3 linked regions of the Homo sapiens genome follow. The protein of the gene in region 2 purifies or fractionates together with the protein of the main gene of each other region. This does not show direct contact. Each region holds a gene or a part of one and is shown on either strand. Other genes may lie near its edges.

What was found.
Region 1: the proteins of PLA2G4A (region 2) and DNAJC17 purify together in Homo sapiens (affinity purification with mass spectrometry; one large-scale study listed by BioGRID and IntAct). This does not show direct contact.
Region 3: the proteins of PLA2G4A (region 2) and RSF1 fractionate together in Homo sapiens (co-fractionation; one large-scale study listed by BioGRID). This does not show direct contact.

What each region holds. Positions count from the first base shown.
Region 1 is NC_000015.10:40,797,465-40,801,119, reverse strand, and holds part of DNAJC17 (dnaJ homolog subfamily C member 17), read left to right. Parts: intron 1-3,655. UniProt on the Homo sapiens protein: May negatively affect PAX8-induced thyroglobulin/TG transcription.
Region 2 is NC_000001.11:186,985,884-186,989,571, reverse strand, and holds the end of PLA2G4A (cytosolic phospholipase A2), read right to left. Parts: intron 1,196-3,688; coding exon 1,064-1,195; 3' UTR 591-1,063; downstream 1-590. UniProt on the Homo sapiens protein: Has primarily calcium-dependent phospholipase and lysophospholipase activities, with a major role in membrane lipid remodeling and biosynthesis of lipid mediators of the inflammatory response.
Region 3 is NC_000011.10:77,674,081-77,677,735, forward strand, and holds part of RSF1 (remodeling and spacing factor 1), read right to left. Parts: intron 2,920-3,655; coding exon 2,712-2,919; intron 1,177-2,711; coding exon 956-1,176; intron 1-955. UniProt on the Homo sapiens protein: Regulatory subunit of the ATP-dependent RSF-1 and RSF-5 ISWI chromatin-remodeling complexes, which form ordered nucleosome arrays on chromatin and facilitate access to DNA during DNA-templated processes such as DNA replication, transcription, and repair.

The sequences.
Region 1 (3,655 bases), on a different chromosome or scaffold from region 2:
AGTAGCTAAAGAGACCACTGCAACGACTTTACTTGAGAATCAGGAGACCAAGGGCAGTCACTGCGTCTCTCAGGACCTGACTTTCCCCAAATGTAAAATGAAGGAGTAGGGCAAACTACAGTTTGAGGGGCCAAATGGCCCATGACCTTTTTTTTTTTTTTTTTGAGACGGAGTCTCGCTGTCGCCCAGGCTGGAGCATGGTGGCGCAATCTCGGCTCACTATAACCTCTGCCTCCCAGGTTCAAGCAATTCTCTGCTTCAGTCTCCGGAGTAGCCGAGATTACAGGCTCCTGCCACCACGCCTGGCTAATTTTTATATTTTTAGTGGAGATGTGGTTTCACTCTCTTGGCCTGGCTGGTCTTGAACTCCTGACCAAAGTGCTGGGATTACAGGCGTGAGCCACCGTGCCCAGCTGACCTTTTTTTTTTTTAATGGCTTATGTGCTAAGAATGGGTTTTACATGTTTAAATGATTGTAGAAAAAAAAACACAGCTCAACAACCAAAAAAACAACTCGGTTAAAAAATGGGCAAGCCAGGAGTTTGAAGTTACAGTGAGCTCTGATCACGCCACCATGCTCCAGCCTGGGTGACAGAGTGAAACTCTGTCTGTAAAAAAATTAAAAAAAAAAAAAGAAAAAGACAATCTCAATAGACATTTCCCCAAAGATGATGTACAAATGGTCAATAAACACATGAAAAGATGCTCAACTTCACTAGTCATTAGGTAAATGCAGATCAAAACCATGTTGAGGCCAGGTGCGGTGGCACACGCCTGTAATCCCAGCACTTTGGGAGGCCGAGGCAGGTGGATCACCTGAGGTCAGTAGTTCAAGACCAGCCTGCCCAACATGGTGAAACCCCGTCTCTACTAAAAATACAAAAATTAGCTGGGCGTAGTGGCAGTTGCCTGTAGTCTCATGTACTCGAGGAGGCAGGAGAATTGCTGGAACCCAGGAGGCGGAGGTTGCAGTGAGCCGAAATCGTGCCACTGCACTCCAGGCTGGGTGATGGAGCAAGACTCCATCTCAAAAAACAAACAAACAAAAACATGTTGTGATACCACTTCACACCCATTAAGATAGCTATTATGAAGACAAAAACAACAACAACAACAAAAAAAAAACCCTGGTGTGATGGCTCATGGAGAGGCTAATGTGGGAGGATTGCTTGAGCCCAGGAGTTCCAGGCTACAGTGCGCTATGATTGTGCCACTGCACTCCAGCCTGGATGACAAAGCGAGACCTTGTCTCTAAAAATAAAAAGTAAAAAGAGAGAGAGAGAAATAAATGTTGGTCAGGATGCAGAGAAATTGGAGCCCTGTGCATTGTTGGTGGTGCAGATAATGTTAAGATGGTATGGTGAGTCCTCAAAAAATTAAACATGGAATTACCATATGACCCAACAATTACCATATGATTCATATGGTAATTAAATATAGAAGTAATATGATCCAGCAACAGAAACAAACACAAAACAACAAAGGAGAATATACAACAAAGACTATATGTAGCTCCCTAAAATTTTTACTCTCAACCGGGGGCCTTTACAGAAAAATCTGCTCATCCCTCTTCAAGTTAGGGACAAGTTCAACTCTGCCTTTCTGTACACAGAACTAGCCTTTCTGCAAATGTTCTTCCCTCATATCACAACAAACCTAGCAGGCCAAAAGTGAGCTAAACACCACCTTTCATGGGGATTTAACAATCAGCCATTCTCCTTGTTCCCCATCCAGCCCTAGAGGATACAGGCAGGGCATGGTGTGGTTTTTTTTTTTGTGGGAAAGCCTTAAGTTGAGGACCTGGGTTTCGGGTGGAAGTGCTCCTAGGGAGAGGATCAGTCTGCTAGAGCCTGAAGCAGCGAGCACCAAATTCTTTTTTTTTTTTTTTTTTTTTTGAGATGGAGTCTCGCTCTGTCGCTCAGGCTGGAGTGCAGTGGCACGATCTCGGCTCACTGCAAGCTCTGCCTCCCGGGTTCACACCATTCTCCTGCCTCAGTCTCCCGAGTAGCTGGGACTACAGGCGCCCGCCACCACACCACCATGGCTAATTTTTTTTGTATTTTTAGTAGACACGGGGTTTCACCGTGTTAGCCAGGATGGTCTCTATCTCCTCACCTCGTGATCCGCCCGCCTCAGCCTCCCAAAGTGCTGGGATTACAGGCGTGAGCCACCGCGCCCAGCCAGCAAGCGCCAAATTCTTACACACACACTCACAAGGCGGGGCACCACGGCTGCCAGAATGAAGGATTAAGTCGTGAGTTAACGCTGTTTGCAAACCTTCAAGAGAGATTCCAAAGTAATCTCAGGAATTACCTGAGTGACTGCAGTGACCGTCTAATCCTTTTCCTATTTCTGTTCTTGATCCTTTTCACACAGCAGCCAGAGTGAGCCTTTATAATGTAAATCAGATTTTGTCACCTCTGGTCACAACTCCCAGTGGCTTCTCTCAGTCTTAGAATGAAATCTGAAGTCCTTCCCCTGGCCCACGCGGCCCTTACTGCCTGTCCTGCACGTTCCCTGCCACCACTCTCCCCTTTGCTGACTGTGCTCCAGCCACATCAGTCCTCCTGATATTTCCTACAACATTGTGATAAATAATGTATTTAACGCAAAATTTACTGCTTACCATTTTAATCCTTTTTGATTAAAGGATTCACTGGCATTAAGTACATTTACATTGTTGTGCAGCCATCACCACCATCCATCTCTACAACTTTTCCATCATTTCAATCTGAAACTCTGTACTTAACAAAGAGTGACTCCCTGTTCCCTCCTCCCCCCAGCTCCTGTGAACCACTCTTCTACTTTCTTTCTCTATATGAATTTGACTATTCTATGAACCTCATATAAATGGAATCATGCAATATTTGTCCTTTTGTGTCAGGCTTATTTCGCTTAATTAACATCATGCTTTCAAGGTTCAGCCATGTTGTAGCATGTGTCAGAGTTTCCTTTCTTTTTAAGGTTGAATAATATTCCATTTTATGTATATACCACATTTTGTTTATCCATTCATCTGTTGATGAATATTTTGGTTGTTTCCAGCTTTTGACTATTGTGAGTAATGCTAGTATGAATGTGGGTTAGAAATTTGTTTGAGCCAGGTGTGGTGGCTCATACCTGTAATCCCAGCACTTTGGGAGGCCAAGGGTGGTGGATTGCCTGAAGTCAGGAGTTCAAGACCAGCCTTGCCAACATGATGAAACCCTGTCTCTACTAAAAATAGAAAAACTAGCCAGGCGTGGTGGTGGGTGCCTGTAATCCCACCTACCCAGGGGGGTGAGGCGGGAGAATTGCTTGAACCCAGGAGGCGGAGGTTGCAGTGAGCCGAGATTGTGCTACTGCCCTCCAGCCTGGGCGATAGAGCAAGACTCCATCTCAAAAAAAAAAAAAAAAAAAAAAGAGATCGGCCAGGTGCGGTGGCTTACACCTGTAATCCCAGCACTTTGGGAGGCTGAGGCAGGTGCATCACCCAAGGTCAGGAGTTCAAGACCAGCTTGGCCAACATAGTGAAATCCCGGCTCTACTAAAATACAAAAATTAGCTGGGCATGGTGGCGGGTGCCTGTAATCCCAGCTGCTAGGGAGGCTGAGGCAGGAGAATCGCTTGAACCCAGAGGCGGAGGTTGCAGTGAGCCAAGATTGTGCCATTGCAC
Region 2 (3,688 bases):
GCAGTCCAGGATAATATTAGCCAAGGGAAATGTTACATTAGAAGTGGTTACACATATATTTTCTACTTAATGAATAAACATATACCATTTTCTGAAAAAATTATATATTCATCTTTCAGAAAAAAAACCTATGATTTAAAATTAAAAGTTTCAGCCAGGCGCGGTGGCTCACACCTGTAATCCCAGCGCTTTGGGAGGCTGGGGCGGGCAGATCAAGAGGTCAGGAGTTTGAGACCAGCCTGGCCAACATAGTGAAACCCCGTCTGTACTAAAAATCTAAAAATTGGCTGGGTGTGGTGGCGGGCACCTGTAGTCCCAGCTACTCGGGAGGCTGAGGCAGGGGAATCGCTTGAACCTGGGAGGCGGAGCTTGTGGTGAGCCAAGATCACACCACTGCACTCCAGCCTAGGTGACAGAGTGAGACTCTGTCTCACAAAAAAATTAATTAATTAATTAAATTAAATTAAAAGTTTCACACTTGAGTTTAGGATGAACAACTTTTGCGTTTGAAAGCAGTGAATATGAGAATCTTTCATAGCAATAGTCCAATATCTCATTAAAAATTAACAAAAAACTCAGTTATCTCATGCTTATTTTTATATTGATGTATTTATTTCATGTATGTATATATATGCATATATAAATAAAAATAGTGTTGTCTCATGGTATGAATAAATCTAGTCAGTGAATAACATTCATACATAATGCGAGGTCTTATTGAGATTGAACTGTTAAATATTTTAAAAGAAAAAAAATTTTTAAAAAGAACACACATAAGAAAGTTGGTGAGAAATGTTTAAAAATACAGTATATATCCCTACATTTGTATCAGGAAGTTCATACTGACTGAAAATGTAGCTAAGTATATCCTTACATAATCAACATCATTTGTCAACCTAACTTATAATAGTATTATTCTCATGCAGCTAAGTAACTGCAACTTTGAGTATCAGCCAGTCTCTCATGATCAGTACGACTATCTGTACTGTACTTTTAAATCCAGTTGTCATGGGATTGCAAACTGCCTCAGCATCAGAAACTGCTGCCATTTCCAGTACATGAACTATGCTTTGGGTTTACTTAGAAACTCCTTGTTGAAAAATCTTCTTGCCTCAACATTACTAAGGGAAACAGAGCAACGAGATGGATTCTGTCTTCTATATTCAATGCTTTCAACCATGGCTTCTTTTATCACCTGCAAATAGAGACAGAAGTTGTATAATTAGCGCTGCTATGAACTCATTTATATATTTTTTATTAAAATAAAAATCAAATGAATCTTTTTATTAGAGTATTCCTTTTGACATATATGAATAGAAATCTACGAGTCATGCATACACATTTAAATTCAACATCCCACCACTGCACTCTTGTTAAGCTTATATTCAGCTACTGTTCCTTCCCTCACCAGGGAAAGAAGGATTCTGGAAATGTTCTAGATTTTATGCTGATAAATTTGGGAATAAAGTGGTAGCATGGTAAAATTATGTTGGTTCTGCTCTTTGCCAAAAGGGGGATAACAGGGAAGAAACAAGTAATTACTAAATCTATAATTTATGTTCTTTATAATTAGTGGGCAAGTAGAAAAAGACCACCAGGAAAGTAAAAGCTTTTCCTAGTGGAGGAAGAAGGCATTGCTGGAGAATTGCCTTCCTTCCTCAACTGAAACAATACAGTTATAAAACATGAGCCTCCTCTATCTAGGAAACATCATGCTCTGTGATTTCATTGGTGAAAATGAATTACTACTTTTTATTCAGCATACATATATCCAATATATATTCTTTACATATACCCATGTTAATGGTAACCAGAAGAAAACACAGGAAACTACAACCTCTAAGAACTGCTATTTCAACTGTCATACACTGGTTTTGGTATGAAGTTAACCTAGTTAGAATTTGGGGAAAGAAGAGAACATTCAGAATTTGGTAGATGCAGTTATTGAAGAGCAGTGGAAATGGGCTTTGGAAGAAGGCCTGAATAGTAAATCTTGTCTCTGCTTCTGCTTCAGAACCTTGTTAAAATCAGGAAGACTCCATTTCCCAGGACAGTCCTCATTTCATCTCGATGACCAATGAGATAGATGTTTCTGGGCATCAGGAAACCGAGGCAAGTCACAGAGTTATTCCACAATTCCTTTTATTCTCTACCTCAGGGATTGTTAAGCAACATTAAGGTACAGTCCACGGGCTTTTCAGCCCCTTGCCACAGGTAGGAATACTTGGCAAGTCTGATCAGTTTAGGACGCTATGGCCTCCTCTCACTCACAACTGCTGTGGCCCACTTGGCCTTGGAGATGCATGCTCAGAGGGATTCTCCCATTACCACGTGCAAGCTCACTGGGCAAGCATGGCTCATTGCCTGAAGGAGATCATGTTTGCACCACTTAAACATGTGAGATCTAAATGGTGCAAACATGCAATTATTTTTCTGTGACTTTATGTCCCAGACACCCAACAAGCAAGGCTCTCTATTCTCTAATAGTAACTTTAAAAACGCAGTCAGATTTTGGAAAAAGGGAGCTATCACAGGAATGTGGTTCTTTTATATGCCTTATTTTAAAACGTAATATATGTAATTATCTTCTCGGGAAATGGGCTCAAACGTGAATGAGTCCGTTAAGGTAAAGCTGATATTTGCTGATCCCACTTTTCTTAAGAATAGGGAAACATAATTCTGTGATGACAAAAGATGCTTCAGATCTATGAAGGAGACTTGGACCAAAGGCTACCAGGCACAAACACTTCTTGGCTGTGTGAGATGGAGGGCAATTAGTGTCAATACTTGAGCCCATTTCTTCTTCTTTAAAATGGAAATAATGTACTAATTTGGGGTTTTGTGGGGATTGGAGATCATTTCTATAAAGTGCTTGGCACAATACCTGGTACATAAACATTCTACAACAGCTGTTACGCTTGTTATTTTTAAACTGACAATATGTGATGAAAATTGGGAACTCTAAATTAGAAGTGAAGCTATAAAGTTTATAAGAAATAAACACACCAGGTGTGTAGCCAAGAATGAGCTTATTATATTGTGTAAGTCAGCAAATCGTTTCTGCTATTCAAAGTATCCTACTACATCTTCTTTTAAAAATCTCCCTGCCTTTCTAGAGATCTATATCAGCAAATTTATCAATTGGTTTCTCCTTCTCACAGAAATCCATGAAACATCAACCCTCATTGCATAAAAGTGTCCAAATAAAATAAAAACCAACTATTTGCTTTCTAAACACCTAAAAAGCTTTAAAATAAAAAAGACCATACAAAAAATTAAACTGACAATGATTGCTGCTATCAATTCCCTCATAATGAATTCTTGAGCATAAAAAAAATCAGCAATATCAACATCAGGAACTAGTGGATTTATCGTAATTGGACCTCAGCTGGTGTTCCTAGTGAGCAAGCCATTCTGATAAAGGAAAATGAACACTTCCAACTCTGAAAACCCCAAGTTAGAATGTGCAAGTTGATCCACTAGGTGGCATATTAACACCATGAAACCATTAACCAGGTTTTTCACATTACTGCGGAAAATACCCTGTTCTTGGGAGTTACAGTTCTGTGATAGAAAAAATCAAGCCCAGTATTAGATCAGTTACTAAATTCAAACCTTTTGGCATCCTACATGATACAACTACATATATTCAAAAAGGCATTATGTTAAATTTAAACCTTTCTTTTCA
Region 3 (3,655 bases), on a different chromosome or scaffold from region 2:
TCTGAATTTGGTAATTGCATTGTGGTGATGTAAGAAAATGTCCTTGTCCTTAGGAAATAATCACTGATAAAGGGGCATGATATTATCATCACTTATTTAGATGGTTTAGGAAAAAAGATAAATAAAACCAAAAAAAACCCACAAGGATGGCCAGAGTCTGATACTCATATCTATGGTTCTTCTCTAATAAGATGACACCTATCAATTTGCCAATTACATAAAGCATTCATTTCTTGTAGCGGTTGAGCCTCTATTTACTCACTTAATAGGGATAAGCATACTCTATAACAACATCAACTACTGTTAATCTGTAAAAACTACTCAACACTGACTGTGGTCTAAATGAGAGTTAACTTGTATTCTTCTCTCTCCAACAGCTGGGCATCTGAGGGAAATGTTCACAGTTTATTGAGAATGATTTCCAAGAAACCCTATGAAGATGAAGGTTTAGGAGTGGAAACATTTGACAACCAAGGAGTCATCACAATCCTACTAGGCATCTGATATGAAGTTAACGTATCAATCAGTATGTATTTTCTCAGATGTGCTTTCTATGAGAAAAATTTAGTCAGAAATAAGTCTTAAGAACAGAATTTTAAGAACTCTTAACTCCAGAAGTCATAAGAATTTGTTGAGCTGGCCAGCGTGCTGGCTCACGCCTGTAATCCCAGCACTTTGGGAGGCTGAGGTGGGCAGATCACCTGAGGTCGGGAGTTTGAGACCAGCCTGGCCAACATGGAGAAACTCCCTCTCTACTAAAAATACAAAATTAGCCAGGCATGGTGGCACATGCCTGTAATCCCAGCTACTTGGGAGGCTGAGGTAGGAGAATCGCTTGAACCCGGGACACAGAGGTTGCAGTGAGCCGAGATGGTGCCATTGCACTCCAGCATGAGCAACAAGAAAAACAAAAAATAATTTATTGAGCTACCATATGGTTACAGATTATTTTTACCAGAGTCTCTACTATTCTCCTCAGATTCCTCCTCTTCATCATCATCGGAATATTTTTTCTTTGGGGTCTTTCTTCGCAAACGCCTGCTCTGCCTCATTGGCCGAGAGGGGTGTCGCCTCAGTCTACGGCTACAAAAGTCAGTGTCACTGTCATCATTAGATGGCGGATCTTCTTCACTTTCATCTGGGTTTTCATCAGACACAACAAACTCATCTTGAGATCTGTCCAAGAGAAATCAGATAAAATACAATGGTATTTAGAAGAGTGAACCCATTTTTAAGAGTTCTGAGTTCAAATTCTGGTGAGCCCAGTGAATCATTAAGTATAGTGCAACATATCTGGATAATTGTATCAAATGCCCTATTTATAAAATGGGGAAAATGTTTTGCCACCTATCCTCTTAGGAGGGGTTGTAAAGATGAATTAATGTTGATTTCTGTACTGCTTTGACCTCTTGGGATGTCCCCCATGTTAAATTCGACATATTCAAAAGTGAATTCATTATTTCCCAATCTACTTCTCTCTTCTGTTCCCTGGCCTGGTATTTGGCACCATCACTCATCCGGTAACTCCAACCAGAAACGTGGTATTTATCCTAACTTTCCCCTTTTCATTTCTCATATCCAATAAATTAATAATTTCTCTAGAGTCTACCTCTTAAAAGATAATCTCTCAAACCTGATCTCTTCTGTTTTCAGCTTTTCATACTCACCTTAACTACAAAAGCAACTCCACAAATAGTTTCTCTAATATCTGGTCTCATTTCCCCTCAATCTATCCTCCAAATGAATGCCAGGATGAATCTTTCTGAAGCATAAATCTCATATTAATTTAGTGTTTAAAACCCTTCACTGGTTTTGTATAATTTTCAGGATAAAGTCAAAACACTTATGCATGACAAATAAAACACTCCCTAATCTGGCTCTTTTTATCACTTGACCACATCTCCAGTAGGGCACTCTCTACTTCATCCCCTTATTCCTGCTATCCAGAGCCAACAGGAGTTTCCCAAACATTCTATGACATTTTACGGCTTGCTGTCTTGGACATGTGACTTCTATGCTTAGAATACCTTTTTCTTATCCTGCTTTTAGTCTCATACTTGTTGATTCCAAATACTCATTCTTCAAATTTCAGATCAAGCTTTACTTCTACTTTAAGGTTTACTCTTTGGATTAAGCCAACTTTCCTCTGTAGCCTAATTTATCTTTCCCTGTATTTTAGTAGCAGTTATGCAGAATGACTTTTTTTTTTTTTTGTGGTTTATATACTTGTTTCCTCTTCTAATAATCTGAAAGGAGAAACTCTGCAGTATTGTTTCAATTCCAACTCTGCAAAGAAGCCTTTCTTGATCTTCTATACTGGATTACCAGTCCCAAGTCCAACTTCTATGAGTCATGAGAGGATAATATCTTATTTATTTTTCACATAGGACTGGAAACCCCTCATGGACCTGGCAGAAGGTGGCACAGAGGTACAGAGAAAGCTCTCAACAAATGAAAGTTTAATTGTAGTTAGTAAAATTTAAATACAATTTTGAATGTTAAACAACCATAAATCTATTTTCTGTTCTAAACTTTAAAAATGGGCCAAAATTAGTATTCTTGAATCTGCTTTAAATATCCTGAAAATAAACAGAGGTTGTCTATGTACATGAAGAAGAAAACCCTCATCACAGCATGGGCAAGCCTCTCTGCTAGCCCAGTCCTGTTCCTGCTGGTATCTAGGGATCGGGGCCTAGTAGGAGACCACACACCCATCACTGATCTTGAATTCATCCTCGCTCTCTTCTTCATCCAGGTTGCTATCACTGTCCAGATCATTTAATCGCCGGCGTTTCTTCCTTCGAGCAGCAGCTGCCCTCTGGGGTCGTTTATTTTCTTTTCTTTCTTCATCCAAAATAGTAGAGATGTCTTTCCCACGATGACCTGTGATGGTGGAGATATCTTTTCCTCGGCCAACTCCTGAATTTGGGGGAGGGAAGTTCGGGGAGAGAAAAATATGTGTTTATTAAAAGCTTCCCTTTAATTTCTAGAGACAGTCCTTATTCATGCTTAGCAGCTCTTCATTTCTTTATTTTCTTCCAACAAATATGCAGTTTTCTTATGACTTCAGCTGACAGAGGTCTCAGAGTTTTAGCATTCGTTTACCCTACTGAAGAGAAGTTTACTATGTAGGGAACCTCGTTTTTTAAATTTTTATATAATTCACACACCGCAATATTCACCCTCTTAAAGTGTACAATTCAGACATTTTTAGTATAGTCACAAAGTTGTGCAACCATCACCACTACCTAACTCCAGAACATTTTCATCACCCAAAAAAGAAACCTCATACCTATGAGCAGTCACTCAAGAATCTCTTCTTGAAAGCTGTCTTTTGGACAAGGCTTTAGAAAGAGGCCAATAGAGTTTTTAAAAACAGTGTTTGCAGGACAGAAAAAGTGAGAATTCAGCAGCAAAAATGTAAATAAAACATACATCTCTGGAAAAGCCTTAAACAATCTACTTATTAATCTTTTCCAGAGTTTTCATAATAACTAAGTAGAAACCAGAATGTTCCATATTGGAGCATTGGCTAATAGTGCTTTAATTAAATTACCTTCAAGTTCTTCTATTTTAATGCCACTTACTAAAGACTATGAAATTAAGAAACCAATTTTTAATAGGTTAACTTAAAAATTTTTGGTTTAAATTATTT